Linked DNA regions of Homo sapiens: region 1 is linked to region 2. The links come from fine-mapping of genetic effects on gene expression. A gene starts in region 2. The other region holds a variant in brackets. All regions are shown on one strand. Distances are from middle to middle. Region 1 overlaps C2CD4C (C2 calcium dependent domain containing 4C). Region 2 holds the start of PLPP2 (phospholipid phosphatase 2).

What was found.
Region 1: its variant is fine-mapped to the expression of PLPP2 in thyroid (GTEx, PIP above 0.99).

What each region holds. Positions count from the first base shown.
Region 1 is chr19:396,909-407,649 of GRCh38, reverse strand. C2CD4C (C2 calcium dependent domain containing 4C) reads left to right here. Exons shown (of 2, transcript NM_001136263.2): 2 at 1-2,205. The coding sequence ends at 554. Among named protein-coding and RNA genes, the nearest start is that of C2CD4C, 6.9 kb to the left of the region's middle. RefSeq lists enhancers at 1-640, 641-1,520, 8,465-9,664. The variant G/A (reference allele first, on the strand shown) is at 6,220.
Region 2 is chr19:287,629-297,985 of GRCh38, reverse strand. It overlaps PLPP2 (phospholipid phosphatase 2), which reads left to right and starts at 6,583. Exons shown (of 6, transcript NM_003712.4): 1 at 6,583-6,701; 2 at 9,815-9,966; 3 at 10,235-10,357. The coding sequence starts at 6,650. RefSeq lists enhancers at 3,140-3,989, 6,689-7,386, 7,417-7,930, 7,387-8,085, 9,860-10,357.

The sequences.
Region 1 (10,741 bases), 110 kb before region 2:
TGCTCAAAGGTTTCGCCCAGGACAGCCAGGCCAAGGTGAGCCAGCTCCGGCACTCCGTGGGCCGCCACGGCTCCCTGTCTGCGGACGACAGCACCCCGGACGCCAGCCCCGGGAGCCGGCGCCGCCTGACCCGCCGGGCACCCCCGGAACCTGGCCCCGAGTCGGGCCAGGCGCGTGGGGAGCACACGGTCCACGTGGGCCCTCGGGGCAGCGTGCGGCTGCTGGCCGAGTACGAGGCCGGCCAGGCCCGCCTGCGGGTGCACCTGCTGGCCGCCGAGGGCCTCTACGACCGCCTGTGCGACGCCCGCAGCATCAACTGCTGCGTGGGCCTGTGCCTGGTGCCGGGCAAGCTGCAGAAGCAGCGCAGCACCATCGTGAAGAACAGCCGCCGCCCCGTCTTCAACGAGGATTTCTTCTTCGACGGCCTGGGGCCCGCCAGCGTCCGGAAACTGGCCCTCAGGATCAAGGTGGTGAACAAGGGCAGCAGCCTCAAGCGGGACACGCTGCTCGGGGAGAAGGAGCTGCCCCTGACCTCCCTGCTCCCCTTCCTGTAGAGCGGGGACCTGCTCGCTGTCCGCTCGGGTGCAGAGGGCAGACCCCGGTCTCTCCTCCACACCGGGTGCTGGCGGGCGGGTCCGCTGGCTTGGGCTGGGGCTGGCCGGGGAGGGGCTCACACTCAGGCTGGGCTGGGCGCTGATGCTGTAGCTGACGCAGGGTTTCCTGGGTCACCCGATGCTGACTGGAGTATTATTTTTCATGAATTAATTTCTCCTTTGGAGGAGGAGGAGGAGGAGGAGAGGGGCCTCGGGGGAAGAGAAGGGGCCACTTCGCGGGGCAGAGGGTCCCCCTTTGCCCCTCCACACTGCCTCGCGCCTTTCACGCAGAGTTCTAGAAGGAGGTTCTCAGGGGTTCAGGAATCCGTGCATGTGGCCAGGGCGGGGCCGTGGACAGGGAGGTGACAAGTCTTGGAGCCCACAGTCTCCTTCACTGCACGTGTGTCTTCCTCCCCCACAGCCTGCCGCCATCCAGTTCCCACCCCGCGGAGAGCAGGGCCTCGCGGCCACACCAGGCCCAGGCTCTGCCCGGGACGCCCCCTCCCAGGGGTCAGGCTTGGCTCTGGGAGACCCCAGCTTCCCAGGCTCCGGTGGGGAGTGGGGCCAGGCGAGGGTGCCCTGACGAGGGTGGGCGCGGAGGGAGCAGCCGCTGCCACAGTCGGAGCAGAGGAGGTCTTGGCAGAGGTCCGCGGGGAGGAGACGGCTCTCCTGGCCTGTTTTCCTCCAACACTGTCGCCGCTGGCTTTTTGGGTACAGGCCCGTCTGGCCATTTCTGCTGTGGCGCCGGAGGGTCTTGCTCAGAGATGCCCAGAGAGCAGCCCTATGGCCCATCCGTCCTCGCTGGGGGCTGCCACCCCGTCGCCCTTTTGTCCAGCGTCTGCAGCTGGGAGCGACACGCAGTGATTGACGGCCGTGGCTTTGACGCCACGTGTGTAAATAGGCTGTGGCTACGGTGGGTGGGTCGGAGCCCAGGAGGCAGCTGGGGGGACCTGGCTATGGCCTTTCCTGCTGTTAGGTGGCTGCAAGGCTTCCATTGTGTGGTTATGTGGGTCCTTGAATGATTTTGGGGAGGTTTCCAGCTCAGAATGATGCAGAAATGATAAGACTCAAAGCAGGGGCCAGGCCAGGCCAGTGCCTTCGCCTCTCCCGGCTGCTGGTGGGCACGGAGGAACCAGGGCACATCTGTGGTACCCAGGGACGTCCCTTGTCAGCCCGTTTGCCACACATTGTTCCTCTTGTCCAGGGGAGGGTGGAGGAGCTGCTTCCCAGGACTGGAGGAGCAGCTGGGCCCCTGCTGCACGTCCGGTGGGACACACCTGTGAGCCCTCCAGAGGGAGAGTGCAGGCCCCTTCTGAGCCTGGTGTTGCAGGGCTCCGCTCTCTCCCGGAAGCCAGGGCACCCAGGGCGGAGGCTCCTCAGGCCGGGGAGGCGGGGAGGGTGCCCTGCATGGAGAGAGACGCCGGCGCTCCCCGCCTTCTCTGATGCTCACCCCTCCCAGGCCCTGTTCTCCCTGGGGTCCCCCGTTTAGTAGCCCCCCTGCACTCTTTGATATCTTAGTGTCTGAGGTTGACTGTGGGTAAATCTTTAAGACACTCCCCAGCTGTGTTTGTTTATAAATGCTGTTTATAGTGCAATAAAGGTGTTTCGGGAATACGGGGGTGGAGGTTGGCTTCCCTGGCTGTTTAATAACGAGAGAGTTCTGCGGTGAACTCCAGGGAGGAAGGAGAAGAGGATTCCAGATTGGCAAGGTCCTTTCCACTGCCCTCCGCATTCTCCTGCCCCGGGTGGAGGCAGGCGGGGGCAGGAGCCCAGCCCCTGATAAACCACCTCCCTTGGAGCGGCAGGTCTGGGTTCTGCTTCACGGTTCCAGCTCTTGACTACATGGATGTCAGGAAACAGGACTCGGACCCCACACGGTCCCTACAGGGTGGGTCCCGCCTCCCCTCAGAACCTTCAGACAGGACCCTGTCTCCACAGACCCCCTCTAGACACAGCCCCGTATCCCCCTCACACCCCTCAGGGCAGGACCCCGTTCCCCCCACACCCCTCAGGGCAGGACCCCGTTCCCCTCACACCCCTCAGGGCAGGACCCCATCCCCCCTCCACACCCCTCAGGGCAGGACCCCGTTCCCCCCACACCCCTCAGGGCAGGACCCCGTTCCCCCCACACCCCTCAGGGCAGGACCCCGTCCCCCCCCCACACCCCTCGGGACAGGACCCCGTCCCCCCCTCACACCCCTCAGGGCAGGACCCCGTCCCCCCCTCACACCCCTCAGGGCAGGACCCCGTCCCCCCTCCACACCCCTCAGGGCAGGACCCCATCCCCCCTCCACACCCCTCAGGGCAGGACCCCGTTCCCCCCACACCCCTCAGGGCAGGACCCCGTTCCCCCCTCCACACCCCTCGGGGCAGGACCCGTCCCCCCCTCAGACCCCTCAGGGCAGGACCCCATCCCCCCTCCACACCCCTCAGGGCAGGACCCGTCTCCCCCTCAGACCCCTCAGGGCAGGACCCCGTCCCCCCCACACCCCTCAGGGCAGGACCCCGTCCCCCCCACACCCCTCAGGGCAGGACCCCGTCCCCCCCACACCCCTCAGGGCAGGACCCCGTGCCCCCCCCACACCCCTCAGGGCAGGACCCCGTCCCCCCCCCACACCCCTCAGGGCAGGACCCCGTCCCCCCCACACCCCTCAGGGCAGGACCCCGTCCCCCCCTCAGACCCCTCAGGGCAGGACCCCGTCCCCCCCCCACACCCCTCAGGGCAGGACCCCGTCCCCCCCACACCCCCTCAGGGCAGGACCCCGTCCCCCCCTCAGACCCCTCAGGACAGGACCCGTCCCCCCCACACCCCTCAGGGCAGGACCCCGTCCCCCCCACACCCCTCAGGGCAGGACCCCGTCCCCCCCCCACACCCCTCAGGGCAGGACCCCGTCCCCCCCACACCCCTCAGGGCAGGACCCCGTCCCCCCCACACCCCTCAGGGCAGGACCCCGTCCCCCCCTCAGACCCCTCGGGGCAGGACCCCGTCCCCCCCACACCCCTCAGGGCAGGACCCCGTCCCCCCCACACCCCTCAGGGCAGGACCCCGTCCCCCCCTCACACCCCTCGGGGCAGGACCCGTCCCTGTGCTCTCAGCCCAGGCTGGGCTGCTCTGTCTCTCCTGCTGCCCATGGGGTCCAGATGTCTCTGCCATCTCAAATCCACCAGGAGCTTTTGGGAATTGGGGTTCAGCGTAGCCCGGCCTCCTGACCGCGGCCTGGTGAGCCCCAGTCAGGGCCTGGGACGGGTTGACAGGGCTACGGGCGCCTTGTAGCCTCTTCAGCCCCAGCCACTCATCGCTAGGCTGCACGGGTGTGTGCGTGTGCGTGCCAGGTAGGTGCACACACGTCGCCATGTGCTTCCGCATGTGTGTGCAGTGTGACTGCGTGTGCCGTTACCGTGCTCATCTGTTGGGCGTATGTGACAGTGCCAGGTGAGCGCCTGCAGGCACTCGAGTATAGCTGCCTGTGTGCTGGCGTGTGCACGTGTAAGCACGTGAGCCGTGTATGCATGTGTGACCCTGTGTGCGCTTGTGTGTGCCTGTGTCGCTGCTGGTGTGCACTTGTGTGTGCGTTTGTGTGTGCTGGTGTCTGGGAGCTGCAGCTGCCCATGCCCTCCCCCCTCCACTTCCAAGTGGGCGTCATCCAGGGATTCTGCGCCTGCGTGGTGTCTCGCCCTGCCTCAGGTCTTGGCCCACTGCCCTTCAGGTCAGCCCCCACCCCGGGGGAGTCAGATGCCCTTGTTCCCTCCTGGCTGTGGCCGTTTGCTGCCTTGTGATGTTGATCCTGAGCAGAACGAATCTACTGTTTGCACCTCCAGCATCCCTGGCGCCACAGAGCGCTCGGCCCCAGTGGGTGCTGTGCGGTGAAGGAGGCAGGCACACCTGCCAGCAGTCTCTCCTTTCAGACTGGCGGCCATCCTGAGTCTCCCGACCCTCAGGAAGGCCATGGGCACCACAAGCGGGGGGCACCCCGTTTGGTGCAAATTACAAAAAGATGCCCCTTCTTCAGAGGGGAGCCATCATAGGGAACAACAGATGAAGAGTCAGAAGCCTGGAGACATTGCGGACACCTGGATCCAGCTATGCCTGAAGTCCATAACTGCGCACCATTTCAGCTCAGAGGGTGGGCCGGTAAAGTGCCTTGTTTGCTCAAGCCGGCTTGTTTCAGTTTTTTTGTTTTGTTTTGTTTGTTTGTTTTTTGGAGACGGAGTCTTGCTGTGTCGCCCAGGCTGGAGTACAGAGGTGCAGTCTCGGCTCACTGTAGCCTCTTCTTCCAGGGTTCAAGCGATTCTCCTGCCCCAGCCTCCCAAATAGCTGAGATTACAGGCGCCCGCCACCACACCCAGCTAGTTTTTTGTATTTTTAGTAGAGACGGGGTTTCACCAAGTTGGCCAGGCTCGTCTCAAATTCCTGACCTCAGGTGATACGCCTGCCTCGGCCTCCCAAAGTGCTGGGATTACAGGCGTCAGCCACCACGTCCGGCTGATTCATTTTTTAAGGTGACAGAACACTGATCCAGTGGGTCTCTCCCATCCGAGGAGGAGGAGTAACACCTTCCCAGGGCCCCTGCCTTGCGGCCTGTCCTCTCTGGGGCCTTGAACCTCTAACCCTGACGTGTGTGGGGAGCCGCAGGGTGAGTTTCAAGCCCCACCTTCCACGTGGGGTGTGGCCCGGGGCAGTGCGTGGCTTCTCTGGGTCTCAGGCTCCCGAGGCCGAAGGCTCTGTCTGTGATGAGCCCTGGCGGCTTGTGTGCAGTAGAGCTCAATCCACAGGCTCGCCGGGCGGAAGCCGGCACAAAATAGCGACGATAATTAATATAATCACATCAGGGCCATAATTACAGGCGGCCTCAGACCCACCCAGGCGGGGGCTCCCTCGGCCTCTCTCTGCGGCACCCACCGCCCCAGTGCCGGATTCGATTAAGCTTTTGTTTTCTTCTCAGCTCCTGGGGGTGGGAGGGAGGGGCTGCCCACGGCCAGTTCCGCTGACAGGAGGAGAAAAATGACTTCAATAAAAAGGAGGAGGCGGACGCCGACCCGCACACATGCTCCTCCCACGAGGGCGGGCCATTCCCGCGGGCCGGCGCCTGAGCCTCAGTTTACCCTACTGTACAGTGACGTGGTCCCAGAGCCTCTCTCCAGGGTCACACGCAGGGCAGGGCCTGTTGATTAAGCGCATCGTGGGTGGGTGGGCGGGAGGACCCGCTGAATCCTCAGCAAGACGCTGCCTACTGCCATCCACAGATGGAAACACCGAGGCACAGAAGGCAAAGGGGCCTGCGCACACCTCCCAGCTGACAGGACAGGAATTCGGACCAGGGCTGGACCCACGCTGCCCTTCCTGGGTGGGACTGGACACCTGCTTGCATGGCCGGCCCCTGCCATCTGGCAGAGAGGGCCCCAGGGAGCTGTGCTCTGCCAGCCATGGGTCAGAATCCTGACAAGTCCCTCCGTTCTCTGTGACTCGGTTTCCTCTGCAGCACCCTGTACCCTCCCTGCCTGCTGGTGGGGCTGGAGTGGGCACGGACCCAGCACCCGTGGCACCCAGTCCTGGTCACCGGCTGAGCCCTGCTGCGGTGCCACGGATGAGACCCGCACCTTCCCCCGTGGGGTGAGGAATCCTCTC[G/A]TGCGGGGTGAGGTCTGGGCTTTGCCTTGGCTTTGGGAGGTGATTTCTGCCCTGCCTGAGGGGAGCGTCTTGGTCTGGGGTAGGGAGGGTCACACCAGCAAGACCAACCGTGGGACTTGGGAGCGCCTTGGGTCTCACAGCGTCAGACACCCTTGGAGTTCGAGGGCAACCCCGTGGCAAGCAATCAGTCAATCAAGCCCCCACGAGGGATCCCTCGCAGAGCTCTGGGCGCCTAGGCTGCCGTGCCCTTTCCTGGTGGTCCGTGCGCCCTGTGAGTGAGCAGTTCCCGGCTTCCCCGGACAGGACCACGGGGCTTCTCCGGGACGCTGCCTCATGTGCTCTTCCCCAGCCCACGGCACCTGCACCCCGGCACTGTGACAAACCCTACCTGTGACGAGGACAGCTTGCTGGGAGTTCCGTGCGTCCTCGCAAATCATCAAGCGTGAGGGTGAGCCTGGGAACCCCTGGAAGAGTGAGGGTGAGCCTGGGAACCCCTGGAAGAGTGAGGGTGGGCCTGGGGACCCCTGGAAGAGTGAGGGTGGGCCTGGGAACCCTGGAAGAGTGAGGGTGGGCCTGGGAACCCTGGAAGAGTGAGGGTGGGCCTGGGAACCGCTGGAAGAGTGAGGGTGGGCCTGGGGACCCCTGGAAGAGTGAGGGTGGGCCTGGGGACCCCTGGAAGAGTGAGGGTGGGCCTGGGAACCCTGGAAGAGTGAGGGTGGGCCTGGGAACCCCTGCAAGAGTGAGGGTGGGCCTGGGAACCCCTGCAAGAGTGAGGGTGGGCCTGGGAACCCTGGAAGAGTGAGGGTGGGCCTGGGAACCCTGGAAGAGTGAGGGTGGGCCTGGGAACCCTGGAAGAGTGAGGGTGGGCCTGGGGACCCCTGGAAGAGTGAGGGTGGGCCTGGGGACCCCTGGAAGAGTGAGGGTGGGCCTGGGGACCCCTGGAAGAGTGAGGGTGGGCCTGGGAACCCCTGCAAGAGTGAGGGTGGGCCTGGGAACCCCTGGAAGAGTGAGGGTGGGCCTGGGGACCCCTGGAAGAGTGAGGGTGGGCCTGGGAACCCTGGAAGAGTGAGGGTGGGCCTGGGAACCCTGGAAGAGTGAGGGTGGGCCTGGGGACCCCTGGAAGAGTGAGGGTGGGCCTGGGGACCCCTGGAAGAGTGAGGGTGGGCCTGGGGACCCCTGGAAGAGTGAGGGTGGGCCTGGGAACCCCTGCAAGAGTGAGGGTGGGCCTGGGAACCCCTGGAAGAGTGAGGGTGGGCCTGGGGACCCCTGGAAGAGTGAGGGTGGGCCTGGGAACCCTGGAAGAGTGAGGGTGGGCCTGGGAACCCTGGAAGAGTGAGGGTGGGCCTGGGAACCCTGGAAGAGTGAGGGTGGGCCTGGGAACCCTGGAAGAGTGAGGGTGGGCCTGGGAACCCTGGAAGAGTGAGGGTGGGCCTGGGAACCCTGGAAGAGTGAGGGTGGGCCTGGGGACCCCTGGAAGAGTGAGGGTGGGCCTGGGGACCCCTGGAAGAGTGAGGGTGGGCCTGGGGACCCCTGGAAGAGTGAGGGTGGGCCTGGGAACCCCTGCAAGAGTGAGGGTGGGCCTGGGAACCCCTGGAAGAGTGAGGGTGGGCCTGGGGACCCCTGGAAGAGTGAGGGTGGGCCTGGGAACCCTGGAAGAGTGAGAGTGGGCCTGGGAACCCTGGAAGAGTGAGGGTGGGCCTGGGAACCCTGGAAGAGTGAGGGTGGGCCTGGGGACCCCTGCAAGAGTGAGGGTGGGCCTGGGAACCCCTGGGCTGCCGTTGGGGCTGGAACGGGGGCACTGTTGTTGGGACACTGCCCTCTGACCTTTCAGCGTGGTTCACTCCAATCCCCGGGCCACAGAGTCCTCGTGGCCTCCCTGGGAGTGTGCACCTGCCCGGCCGTGGAGACACATGACCCTTGCCCCCAAGCTCCCCTCTCACCTCCCTAACCCCTTTGCCTGTGGCCCAGGCGGCTCAGAGGCACCCCCCCGCCCACCAGCCACTGTGTCCCCACCCTCCCCTCCCACCTGGGCTCCCCCAGCCAAGCCACAGAATGCTCCTTCCTCATCTCCCAAAGTCACGGGGACAGCTCAGATCAAGGACTGCAGCTCCCACACTGCCAGCCCCTCCCCCTCTCTGAGCCTCAGTTTCCTCCTGTGTAAGTGAGGTGCCCAGTGCACACTGCCCTCTAGGCTTCAGGTGATGGCAACATTGAGCTTTCAAAGCACTCACGCATAAACCTCATTCAGACCACGGGCCACTGTAGGTCAAAGGTGCGTCCGAGTGTTTACTAAGGAACGGCAGGACTGGACTGAGTTTTATACGCAGCAGGAGGAAGGAGGCACCTGCCGCTCAGGGACAAAACTCATCCGCATTTGTCAATCCCAAGCAGCGTCCAACCCCAGAGCCAGGACACTGGCAAGAGTGGAGGGAAGCGTCCACAAAGTGACCCCCGGGTGGCCGGGCTGGTCGAGGCTCTGGAATACAACTGATCCTCTGGGTGATTCGGCCCCTCGGGGACACGGGGCAACGTCTGGGGCTTCTGTGGTTGTCACGACTAGGGGAGCTCCTGGTGTGGAGTGGGCGGAGGCCAGGGACACTGCTCAGCACCCAGCAGTGCCCAGGACGGCCCCACCCCAGGGAATGATCAGCTCTGAGGCCCACCGTGCCGAGGGTCCAGGATCCAAAGAGCAGGCAGTGATGTTTTTACCCCTTTCCAAGTTCTGGATAATTTTCCCAAACCTGAGGATGAAACGAGAGAAGGCACATAAGCTGCCTAGCAAGGTGACTGCACATGGTGAGGGGTCTCACGTGTCGTCTGCACGCGGTGAGGGTCTCACGTGTCGTCTGCACGCGGTGAGGGTCACACGTGTCGTCTGCACGCGGTGAGGGTCACACGTGTCGTCTGCACGCGGTGAGGGGTCACGCGTCGTCTGCACGCGGTGAGGGGTCATGCGTGTTGGCTGTTCCCCTTTCCTTTGGCAAATGTGGACTGAGTGCTGCTGTGCCTTATGCTCGTGTCGGGGATACCACAGCTCCAGGGTGTCCCTGACATGATGTTCCCGGCCCTGCGCTCTCCAGAGCTGAGACTCACCCCATGGAGCAGTGGCCACTGGGCCTGTCCCCTCCAGACTGCTCCGCGCAATACAAAGTGGCAGTGGGTAGCTTCCAAACCCAGGCCATGAAAAGGAGGTGGCCCAGGGAGGCAGGTGCAGCTGGCAGCCCAGGTGGGCCCCAGCCTCCTGGTCTTAGAGCAGACTCCCAGATGTCATGGAGCAGGGGCACCATCCCTGGTCTGCCCGAGTTCCTTCCTGACTGAGGCTTTCTCATCGACAAGCATTGGGGTGGGTGCCTAGTCTGAGTCCTGCAAGGCTTGCCCTTGGAGGACTTCCTGGAAGAGGAGGCCAGAGGACAAAAGGGTTGTGAAGCCCCAGAGCAGAAAGGACTCAGCCCCAAAATTCCAAGGAGGCCTGTGGGTCACAGGACTGTAAGAGGAGTGTGGACTTTATCCTGTGGGCAAAGGGCTTGGATGAACGTTTTAGGATGACCTGAACTGTCTGGAAGGAAGGGGCATGGCCGGGCAGCACAGAAGCCAAGGGGAGGGCAGGGCACTGGTGCTGGGTCTGGATGGGCAAAGGCGGATGCCTGGCACCAGGGTGAGCAGAGAGGAGTAAGACACATTTGGAAGAGACTGAGGCTGCAAATCTTCCAGGATGTGTGAGGACTAGGTGTTCAGGATGGTGGACGGGGGTGAGGGGGTGCGCCGGCCGAGTCCTCTCTGTCAGCGCGTTCACCTACCTGCAAGCCCAGGAGCCTCTGCCTTCCAAACGCACCGGGAACCTTCTCAGCAAGCAGGTGGAGCTGCTGAAGGCAGCAGCACGACACGTCTCTGCCACACTCAGTGGATCACGCGGGGCAGCCCAGGCAGGAGGAATTCAAGAGCAGCCGACATGAACCTACCCGCTGCCAGCAATGGAAGTCAGGATGGGGCCCCCGGGGCAGGGACCAGGAGGGACGAGGGGCCTCTGGGGGCCGTCACAGGTGGCGTTTTCATTGGAGTGGGGGCTGCTATGGTCAGTTTGTTTATAAATGTTCACTGAGCTCATCAGGATCAAGTATCCAGAACACATAAACTATGCATACAACTCAGCAACAAAATGACCAACAACCCCATTAAAAAATAGGCAAAAGACTTCAATGGGCATTTATTGAAGAAGACACACAGCTCGTTTACATCATTCGAAACGTAGAAACAGCCCAAATGTCCATCGGCAGAGAGAGATGAACCACCGTGCGGCATATTCGTAGGCTGGAATAGTAGTCAATCACAAAAAAAATGGAGCACGGCCTTGAAACATGACACTCAGTGAAAAAACTCAGGCCAAAAGGACGCATATTGTCTGCTTATATTTACATGAAATGTCAAATATAGCTAAATCCAGAGGATTTCTTTCTGAGATAAGAAGAATGGTTTGGGGAGCTACACATGGTGGCTTGTACCTACAATCCTAGCAACGTGAGAG
Region 2 (10,357 bases):
CCTGCCTCGGCCTCCCAAAGTACTGGGATTACAGGCGTGAGCCAGTGTGCCCGGCCTCTGAATAATTTCTATCGACATGTCTTTGATGCTACCAATCCTCTTTTCTGATATTCCAGATTTCTATTTAGTCTGTTTCACAAAATTTTTATTTCCCATATTGTATATTTTAATAGGTGCTCTTATGTGTTTTTAATTTTTCTGCTGAAATTCTCCATTTTCTCACCTTGCCCCTATCTTTTCTTCTGTAATCTTTAACCTTTTAATAATAGTTACTTTAAATCATTGTCATCCTATTGCTTTGCTTTTTTTTTTTTTTTTTTTTTTTTGAGACGAGGTCTCGCTCTATCGCCCAGGCTGGAGTGCAGCGGCGTGAACTCGGCGCACAGCAACTGCCACTTCCCAGGTTCAAGTGATATTGTCCTGCCTCAGCCTCCCGAGTAGCTGGGACTACAGGCACCCACCACCATGCCCGGCTAGTTTTTGTATTTTTAGTAGAGACGAGGTTTCACCATGTTTGCCAGGATGGTCTTGAACTCCTGACCTCAGGTGATCCACCCGCCTCGGCCTCCCAAAGTGCTGGGATTACAGGCGTGAGCCACTGAGCCCAGCCCTTTTTTTCCTTTTCTTTTTCTTTTTTTTTTTGAGACGGCGTCTCGCTTTGTTGCCCAGGCTGGAGTGCAGTGGTGTGATCTCAGTTCACTGCAACCCCTGCCTCCCAGGTTTAAGTGATTCTCCTGCCTCAGCCTCCGGAGTAGCTGGGATTACAGGCGCACACCACCACACCGCACACGCTGCCACGCCCGGCTAATTTTTGTATTCTTAGTAGAGACGGGCTTTCACCATGTTGGCCAGGCTGGTCTCAAACTCTTGACCTTGTGATCTGCCCTCCTCGGCCTCCCAAAGTGCTGGGATGACAGGCGTGAGCCGCTGTGCCCAGCCCGAAAGTTATACTCTTAAGACCCAGTCCGGGGATGCCAGGGCCTCCAGAAACAGGAATCAGGAGTCACCATCCACATTATGATGTTTCGGTGCTTCTATTTCTCTGCTGCCCGAACTGACCTTCTTCTCAGGGGCAGCGCCCTTTGTGGCGACTGAGATGGCACCAGAAGCTCCAGGCACACAACCTTACATCTGTGATTTCTGTGGGAAGCCTGTATCTTGCCCAACTGTTCTAACAAAACTCCTGGGTAAAATTTGTTCTTGGGTCTCGTGCCCATAACTGAATCAGGAACTGCCGAGCAGAAGGGGTTTCCTGGTTGGCCAGGCCAGGGTCCCTTGTTCCCCTTCGGTAGCAGGGCAGGCCCCATGGAGAAGGAATAGTAAGAGGGAGGAGCACATGGGCAGGCCGGGCGCAGCCACCCAGAGGCATGAGCGTCCCATTTGTGTGGGGTGAGCACAGAGGTCAGGAGGGCAGTGCAGGAACAACTTCCCTCTTAGGCCAAGAAATCTGAAACTGGGAAGGCAGTGGGGAGCCTTAGTGTGTTTTTTAGCTGAAGTAGAGTCACGCTTTAGGGAGATTGGATTTGACTGGAATATCTAAGATAGGTTGGAGCTGGGAGAGACCCTGGGATGCCATTGTTGACTAATATTCTGTTCTTGTCCATGGTGTCTTGTGTTTCTGAGGGTGCACTAGATGTGGGTAAGACAGTTAAGGAGCAGAGGGGATACTGTTTTGCCTCAGGAAGGGCTTGCCCCTCTCCTGTCAGCAGCTGGGTTGATGTGCTGGTCTCGAGGAGCTGGGCTGGCCTGCTCACCGCTTGTGTAGCGTAGCTTTGCCTCTGGGTTAGCTGTGGGGTGGTGGAATCCTGCCCTTCCTGCAGCCCAGACCCAGGCAGGAGGACCTGGAGGGCCCGCTGTGCCTTGGGGCTCTTCCGGATTTGTCTGACACCAGGCTCCTAGGACTAATGAGGCCTCCACCAGACTTGGTCTTGACTAACCTCAGGGGAGCTCATACCTCTCTAGAACAAACTTACTGTCCTCAGCTTTTCGGCAGCCATAAATAAAAGTCATTTGTGTTCGTTTATTTAATGCTTTCCTTTTACAGTGAAGTGAAGGTCTTTGATGACCTCCTTCCTACCTGCTAACCAAATATGGAAATCTGTTCTGGACAGAGTCCATGGCCGTGCCAGGAAGCAGGCGTTAGCCAGGGGCCTGCCTGGAGATCAGCCCTCCTGAGACAATTTCTGTGGGGGTGGAAGTGGGGGAGGGAGAAAGTCGCTCAGAACTGATGGTCCTGGACCGGCCACGGTCCCCAGAGCCTCAGCCTCCCAGGCCCAGGCTTTGTTGAAGATGTCCGGGCCCTGGACTGGCGCTGTCTGGGCCCCCACTGACCTGACCCAGCTGTTTCTCTCTCCCTGATGGTCCTTGTTTTCTCGGTTTGTAGTTCCTGGGTAGGATGGCCAGATAAAATACAGGATGCCCAGTTGGGCTCGGATTACAGATAAACGAATGTGTAAGTATGTCCCATGCAGTATTCGGGACACATACTGAAAACCGGTTTGTTGCTCTTCTGGGATTCAAATGTAACGGGGTGTCCTGTTTGTTTCACAGGTATCAGGACTCAGCTAGGGGGTCCTTGATGTTTATTTGCCCCATTGCTGGGCTGTTCTCAGGAGGATGTTGAGACCCTGGCGTGGAGCGCCTCCTCGGCGTGTCCAGCAGAGGGCGGCCGTGCCTCCCGGAGGCATCGCGGGGCCCAGAGCGCAGCCCAGCCCCGTCCCCTGGTCCTGTGGCTCGAGGTCGGGGAGGGAGGGGCGGTGGTCGCTGCGGGGCAAATGTTTCCACTCACCCGGAGCCACGACCCACGGCCTGTGCAGGGAGAGTCGAAAGCGCGGCCCCCGGTGAGCACTTGGGAGGTGAACCGGTTCCCCGCCCTGGTGGGCTGTCACCAGTCACATCAAGAGATGCAGGACGGCGGTGGCCTCACCAGAGGCATTACGAGTTCTCTGGAGCCCCTCCGCCACCACCGTCCTTGTTCTTCCTTGAGTCGGAACCAGGTCCTTGGGGTCTGTGGGTGCTCAGTGGCTTTGCAGACCTGCAAAGATTTGAGGTCTTCCAGGTGCCTCTCCTTGCCTTCACCAGATGCTGGTTTCGGGGGCAGGGATAGGGCTGCCAGGCATCAGGAAGGTTTGTGAACGGGGATTTAATCGAGTGTTTCGCGGGGTGGCCCCTGCCATCTCTGCCCCTCGTTTTGTACGAGAAGCAGGCGGAAACCAGCTCTCCCTTTGAGAACGCACTGTTGCCCTCCGCTGTTGCTTGTGTGTCTTGCCTTGCTGTGACCCAGGGAGAGCTCCCTGCAGCTGTCAGCTCCCTGGTGACCTCAGGCTCTGGGCATCCCAGTAAGCACGGCTTGCGCACCCACTGTGTGCCAGCTCCCACTTTCCTGGAGCTCGTGGGAGGAGACGGGGACAGTGAACGAACGCACAGACTGAGATGGTGGGAGGGGCTGTGCGTTCCGGGTTGTCTGCACGAGGGGCTCTGGCAGGGGGGCCGCGTCCCGGCTTGTCTGCGCGAGGGGCTCTGGCGACCACGTCCAGCACTACTGCTGTGTGTTTTTCTTTGCTGTGACCCAGTGAAGACCTCCTCACAGACAGAGCACAGCAGACTCGCGGTGCTGAAACCCGGAGGGTTACCCTGTCCCTGACTGACTGTAAGGTTACACTAAATTAAGAGGCACTCCAAGGATTGCAAAGTCCGAGGGGAATTTTGAATTCGTGGGTCCTGGATTGTGAATTTGAAGGCAGCGGTTTCCAACCCTTTTAAATCTTGACCCCAGGAAGAAGTACCTTCTACATCTTGACCCAGCAAACACGTGATACCTACCCACACTGTATTTTGTTCAATTAACCCTCAAATGATGTTTCCTAATGTTTGGCCCTGGGTCAAGCATTTCACAAACTATTTAATCTTCTCTACAATCCCAGGTGGTAGCTACTGTCTTGCCGCCTTTATGCAGACAGAGACTGAGGGATACCTTAGATGTCTTTCCAAACCATCCACCCCCTCAGCCTTCCCTGCCCACTGCCTGCACGTCAAACCCACTGACGGGCACTCGTTCGACTCCAAGAGCCCCGTGCCAGGAACCTGGGAGACAACTCCCGTTTTGACTCTGGGCAAGGTACTTCACCTCTCAAGTCCCAGAGAAGCAGAGAAAGCAACGGCAGGTATAGTGGCTGGCTGCACTTAGGTGGCACCTACTGTGTGCCAGGCCCCCTTCTGCCCACTTCACAGGTGTCTTAGTCTCCATAGAGTCCATTTGGAAACAGGCCCGGAGCCATCCAGGTTGCGATGAGGCACCAAGGTGGCAGAGCCAGTGCTGGGCAAGAGGCGGGAGCTGCAGTTGCTGAACCCGTGAGCTTGCTTGCCTGGGAGTGGCGACCTGGCCCTCAGGGGTTGCTTGTCTCTAGGGGACCCAGCCTGGGTACATGTACCACCACCCGCTTCCAGCTCTGCTATTTGCAGGTGAAGGAGAAAGCCACTGAGGCCTGGCCTCCAGGCCAGGCTCTGTCCCTGCTGGGAGCTGCCCTGGCCTCAGGTTCTTCCTGGAAGGGAGGACCAGGCAGCTGGGGGCAGCAGCAGATCCAGCTATGAAAGCCGTGACAAGAAGTTCCTTGAAGTGTGGTGGGCTGCAGTCAGCATATGTAGGAGACGACCCCAATCCTGACCCTAATCCTAATTCTTGCTTTCCCCACCAGATTTTAATCCTTATCCTGCCCAGGGATTTTAAGGGCTAACCCAAATCCTGACCCAAGGGGAAGGATGGAAGGGGGAACAGCCTGCAGCCTCACCTCCACCCTCTATCCTCCCAGGTCTACCTCCACCCCTCTCCTGGGTCTCTCCCTCTTGGCTTGGCCCCATCCCACAGCCCCCACTGTCTTCCCCCCGCTCCCACTTTGGCAGGCCCCTCCAAGTGACCTCTCCCTTGCTCCCCAGCACACAGTAGGTGCTCAATGAAGAACACCGCCTTTCCTTGACTCCAGTAGATGTTGCACCCTCTCCATCTTAGGAGAAAATGTGCGTTGGCTGTCAAGACTACACTGACAGCAGTGGTCACTCATTTGCAGACAGGGTGAAGTGTGGGGGAAAGCGCAGTAGTGACGCTGAACCCTACATTTATGTAGCATTGATGCTAGGCACCAGAACCCTCACAATCCTAATTCCGACGGGAGCTAGAGCCCCCCCACCCCACCGTGAGTGCAGCAAGGGAGCACCTCAACCCTGCCCTTGGAGGGCCACAGGTCAGCTTGCACCGTCTTCCCACCCAGCACCACTCTGGGTGCCTTTGCTGTCTCCCAAGAGCCCCTTGCCCTTGGAGTTCCCTCATGATGCCCCCCTGCCCCACGTGCAGGTGTCTGACCATCCGGGAAGCAGGGTCGAGGAGCTCCCAGTTGAAGTCCAGTTGCTGAGACGCACCCTGTTTTGGTGTTGCTGGGGCAGGGGGCTGATGGTGGTGCTGAACGGGTTTTAGAGGAGGGTCAGGGTGGCAGCGGATCTGGGGCCCAGCAGCCTTGTTTCTGACCCCAGGCCTGCCACTTCCCATTTAAGTGACCGTGAGTGGCAGAGGTCAAGGCTGGACTCCGGAAACGTGGGTCTGACACTCCTGAGGCCTCCCGGATGGTCCCAGCCGAAAGGACCCAGTGTGGGTCCCTTGGGCCTGGGTTTCCCTGGCTCAGGTGCCCTCAATCCCCAGGCACCCTCAGCTCAGGGCTCCCCACGACCTGGTGGGGGCACAGACCCCGGCGCCATTTCATGGGGTTCCCAGCTCCTGGCGCCCCCGTGCTCTTCTGTGAAATGGGACAGCAAGTGCGCTGATAGGAACGGTGCCTGGGCACAGGGCTGCGCCTGGACACCCTACGCCGTCGCAAGGTGGGTGCCGAGGAACTCGAGCTTCTAACGTGCCAGGGGTCCAAGGACGCGCCAGGATTTTGAGTATTAGGAGAAAAGAAACTCCTGAAATGAAGCCACGTCGCCCCTTCCACTTTAAGGTGCCTCCTGCTGTCGGAGTTTCCAGGCGCACACGGCGCGGCTGCCACTCCCTGAGGAGGAAAGTCGGGAACCGTCCCGCGGGGCCGGTCCCGCCGCTGCTCGTCCTCCTTCTCCACGTCCCCGCCCGGGGCTCCGCCGGCCCGACCCGCGGGGAACCTCCAGCCTCTGAGGACCTCACGCCGCTCGGAGACCCGCACAGCCCGGGTCAGGGCCGGGACTCCGGGCGGACGAGGTCCCCGTGGCGCCCGCACGCTCGCCCCACCCGCTCTTTTGGGCGCCGCGGCCAGGCGGGGGCAGAGTCCGCGCGGTCCCGGGTCCGCCGCGCCCCGCCCCCCCCGCTGCTCCCCTGCCCGCCGCTGCCGTCCCCCCTCCCTCCTCCCCTCCCCCCCTTCTTCCCTTCCCTCCCCCTCCCCCCTCCCCTCCCCGCCCCTAGCCCTCCCCTCCTCCCCTCCCCCTCCCTCCTCCCCTCCCCGCCCCTAACCCTCCCTCCTCCCCTCCCCTCCCCTCCTCACCTCTCCCCTCGTGCCCTCCCCGCCCCTCCCCTCCTCCCCTTCCCGCCCCTCCCCTCCTCTCCGCGCGGGGCGGGCTCCGCGCCACGTGACTCCGCGGCCGGGCCGGGACGCGACGGGACGCGCTGGGACCGGCGTCGGGGGTCGCGGGGACCATGCAGCGGAGGTGGGTCTTCGTGCTGCTCGACGTGCTGTGCTTACTGGTCGGTAAGAGCCTTGGGGACCCGGGTGTTGGGGGGACCCTCCCGGGACGGACACGCCCCCGGCTGCGCGCAAGTTTGCAGGGGAACGCGGAGGCTGCGCGCCCTCGTCCCTCCGAGGACCCTGGAGGCGGGGACCTCGCGTGAGGACCAGACCTCCCTCCGCGCCCCGCACTGCGCGCGCCCTCCCAGGCTCGGGGGTCCCCGCGTCCCAGGCCCAGGGGGATGGGGGTCGCGAGAGGCCCGGGGAGCCGGGGCCAGCATCCCCCGCCCCGGCAGCAGGAAGTCTGTGCGGAGGGGCCGCGCGCGCGCCTCCATCCCGCCCCGCCTGGCCTGGGAGGTGAGTCACGCGGGCCCGGGAGGTGGGGGCGGCCGCGGGTTACCCCGGCAGGACGTCCGCGCCTCCGCCCCTGGGGTGGGCGCTCCCGCTGCGCGCGGAGAGGGCTGACCCTCGGTCCTGGCACCCGGTGCGTCGGCGGGATTCGAACCCGTGCACGTGCGGGGAGGCCCAGCCGCCCTGCTGGCTCGGGCGGGGGAGACACTGGGGATGAAGGCTGGGTCCCAGGCTTCGGGTGAACGGGGTGGCGGGGGGCCGGGAGGCCAGGAGAACCAAACCTGTCCGGCGGGTTTGCGGGCCACACTGGCGGAATGGGCATCCCGAGGCCCCCCTCCCGCAGGGTCCCGGGAACAAAGGCCGAGTGTTTGCTCTGTGGCTGCACAGACAATGGCCCTGGAATTCTATCTCTGGGGGGTGCCCTCCTCCCCAACGTGTTTCCTGCTTCTCTGCCATCTCACAGCAGAGGCCAAGTCCTCTTACCTCCGGAAGGAGACCCTTTTTTAGGGTGGGCCAGGTGACAGCAAGAAGTCCCTGTGGGTGTCTGCCAGCCCGTGGTACCATTTCCTGAGCACCTATGGTGTTATTTATGTAAACATTTAGGTGGCACTTTCTGTATGCCAGGAACTAAGCAACATGCAAATAACAAACATTTCCCTTACAACAGCCTGTGAGGGAGGTGCTGAGTCACCTGCCGGAGGTCACACAGCAGCGGGAGGTACAGCCGAGATGGGGTTGGCTGTTGCTGCTGTGTGCCAGGGGTGGTGGCCAGGCCGAGTGCACCTCTATGCTGGAAGCTTGAGCACACCACAGTTCAGTCAACACTGAGGTTCCAGATGCTGGCATGAGGGCAGTGTGAGGGCGGGAGGGCTCCCGGGGGCTAAATGAAGAGAAGGTGTCTGTTTTGGGGACCCCAGGGAGAGCTTTCCAGGCCGAGGGAAGCCCGGCGCCTGTCGTTATGGGGGTGCCTGCGTCTCTAGTTGGAGTTGCTGGGGCAGGGAGGTCGGAAACGGAGGCTAACCTGTGTGAGCCTCCGCCCGATAAGAGCTGTGGTCGGGCTGCACTCCCTTCTGGGCATCTCGTAACCCTGACTTTCCACCCGGCCGGCAACTGCAGGAGCCTCCTCCAAGGCCTCTCCCTTCACAGCAGCTCCAGCCCCTCCTGTGTGGGAGCAGAAGGCAGGTTCTTACATCCCGCCCTCTCCGCCGTCCTGCCCTGCCTCCAGGCCCTGGCGCTGCCCTTTTTTTTTCTTTCTTGAGACAGAGTCTCGCCCTGTCGCCAGGCTGGTGTGCAGTGGTGCAATCTCGGCTCACTGCAACCTCTGCCTCCTGAGTTCAAACGATTCTCCTGCCTCAGCCTCCCGAGGAGCTGGGACACCGCCACACCCAGATAATTTTTGTATTTTTAGTAGAGTTGGGGTTTCACCGTGTTAGCCAGGATGGTCTCGATCTCCTGACCTCGTGATCTGCCCGCCTCGGCCTCCCAAAGTGCTGAGCCACCACGCCGGGCCTGCCCATTCTGTTCTGCATTCCCTCACCTTTCTTGCTCGGTGAGGCAGGCCTCTGTTTTCTTCACCAGATTATTTCCCCAGACTTAGCCAGCATGGAAGGTGTACGGTGTCCTAGGGCCCTTGGAGTTAGCATGTCGGGAGGAGTGTGGGGCTCCCTGCCCCTCCGCTGACATTCAGAACTTAGAAAAGCCACACCCTTTTGTACTTGCCCTGCTGGGCCAAAGGATGCCCTGCCTTGGTTTGTCTCTGGGCTAGCCGACCCGGGCTTTTGTTGTGCGCCTGCCCTCTGCCCCGTTCTCCGTAGATGACTCCTGCTTCCCTGGCCACCCTCAGCTCAGCAGGGCCCCAGGAGCCCCAGTGCCATGGCAGCACCTTCCATAAGTGGCTCCTGAATGTGTCTTTGATCCCTGAGGCCAGGGCTGGGTCTGTCCTGGTCACCACGTGGCTGGTCGATGAAGGGGCAAGTGCGTGAGCGAAGGTGTCTCAGCTGTGCCCTTCCTTGGCTTCTTCCTGACTTCTCTGGCCTGCTCTTAGGTTAAAAGAAGTCCTGCCTTATTTTAACCGATGTTTATTAAACATCTGCCCTGGCCAGGCCCTGAGCAGGCTCCAGGGACTCTGCCCTGAATACGGTAGGCCCCTCCTGGTGCCGGTGGGTGGATGGGGGGAAATCAATTCCAGTGTCCCACACGTGACTGCCAAATTCCACATGAGGTTTGCATAAGGAAGAGGGAAAAAGAGCAGACCTTTCCTTCTGTGAGAGGGATGCTGGCATGGACAGTCAGCAGGGGAGATGAGAGTGGAGGTTACTCAGAGCTACTTTGGGGCCCCGCACATAAATTAGAGATACTTTGGGGCCTGGCACGTTGGCTCACACCTGTAATCTCAGCACTTTGGGAGGCTGATGCTGGAGGATCGCTCCAGCCCAGGAGTTTGTGACCAGCCTGGTCAACATGAGACCCCTGTCTCTACTTTTAAAAATTTAAAAAAAAAAGATATTTTGGGCAGAGAGAAGTGGCTGTGCAAAGGTGGGTGTTTGCTGAGTTAGTTCAAGGAGCAGAAAGGAGGCTGCCAGGATGTGAGGGGCAGAGCGCCTGAGGAGTTTGTGTTTGTCTGAGGGGATGCGAAAGGGAGTGTTATTTGGGCTGTGAAAAAAGCTCTTCCTTGCTGTCTGGTGAGAGTAGAGGTGGGAGGCCTCCAGGCCAAGGCAGGTGTGTGGGGCCCCAAGGCCCAGCTGGTGAGAGAACCTCACAGCTCCCAGGCTTTTCTTCCCCACCAGCCTCCCTGCCCTTCGCTATCCTGACGCTGGTGAACGCCCCGTACAAGCGAGGATTTTACTGCGGGGATGACTCCATCCGGTACCCCTACCGTCCAGATACCATCACCCACGGGCTCATGGCTGGGGTCACCATCACGGCCACCGTCATCCTTGTAAGGCAGGAGGGGCTCAGAGGGACTGGGTAGGGGGATGGGGTGGGGCCAGCTTTACCCTGGGGGCCTGATGGGGGGGTGGCACAGCCCTGCCCTGGAGGTCTGTGTGGGGCCGGGGGACACAGCCTTGCCCTGAGTGGTACCTGTGGGTAATAGGGCCCCCTTCAGAGTCCCCAGCTCTCCAGCAGCCTTGGGGAGGCCCGTGCGGAGGAGTGAGGGCCCCTGGGCCGACCGAGACCCCCACTGGTTCCTGCGGCTGCTCTTGCAGGTCTCGGCCGGGGAAGCCTACCTGGTGTACACAGACCGGCTCTATTCTCGCTCGGACTTCAACAACTACGTGGCTGCTGTATACAAGGTGCTGGGGACCTTCCTGTTTGGGGCTGCCGTGAGC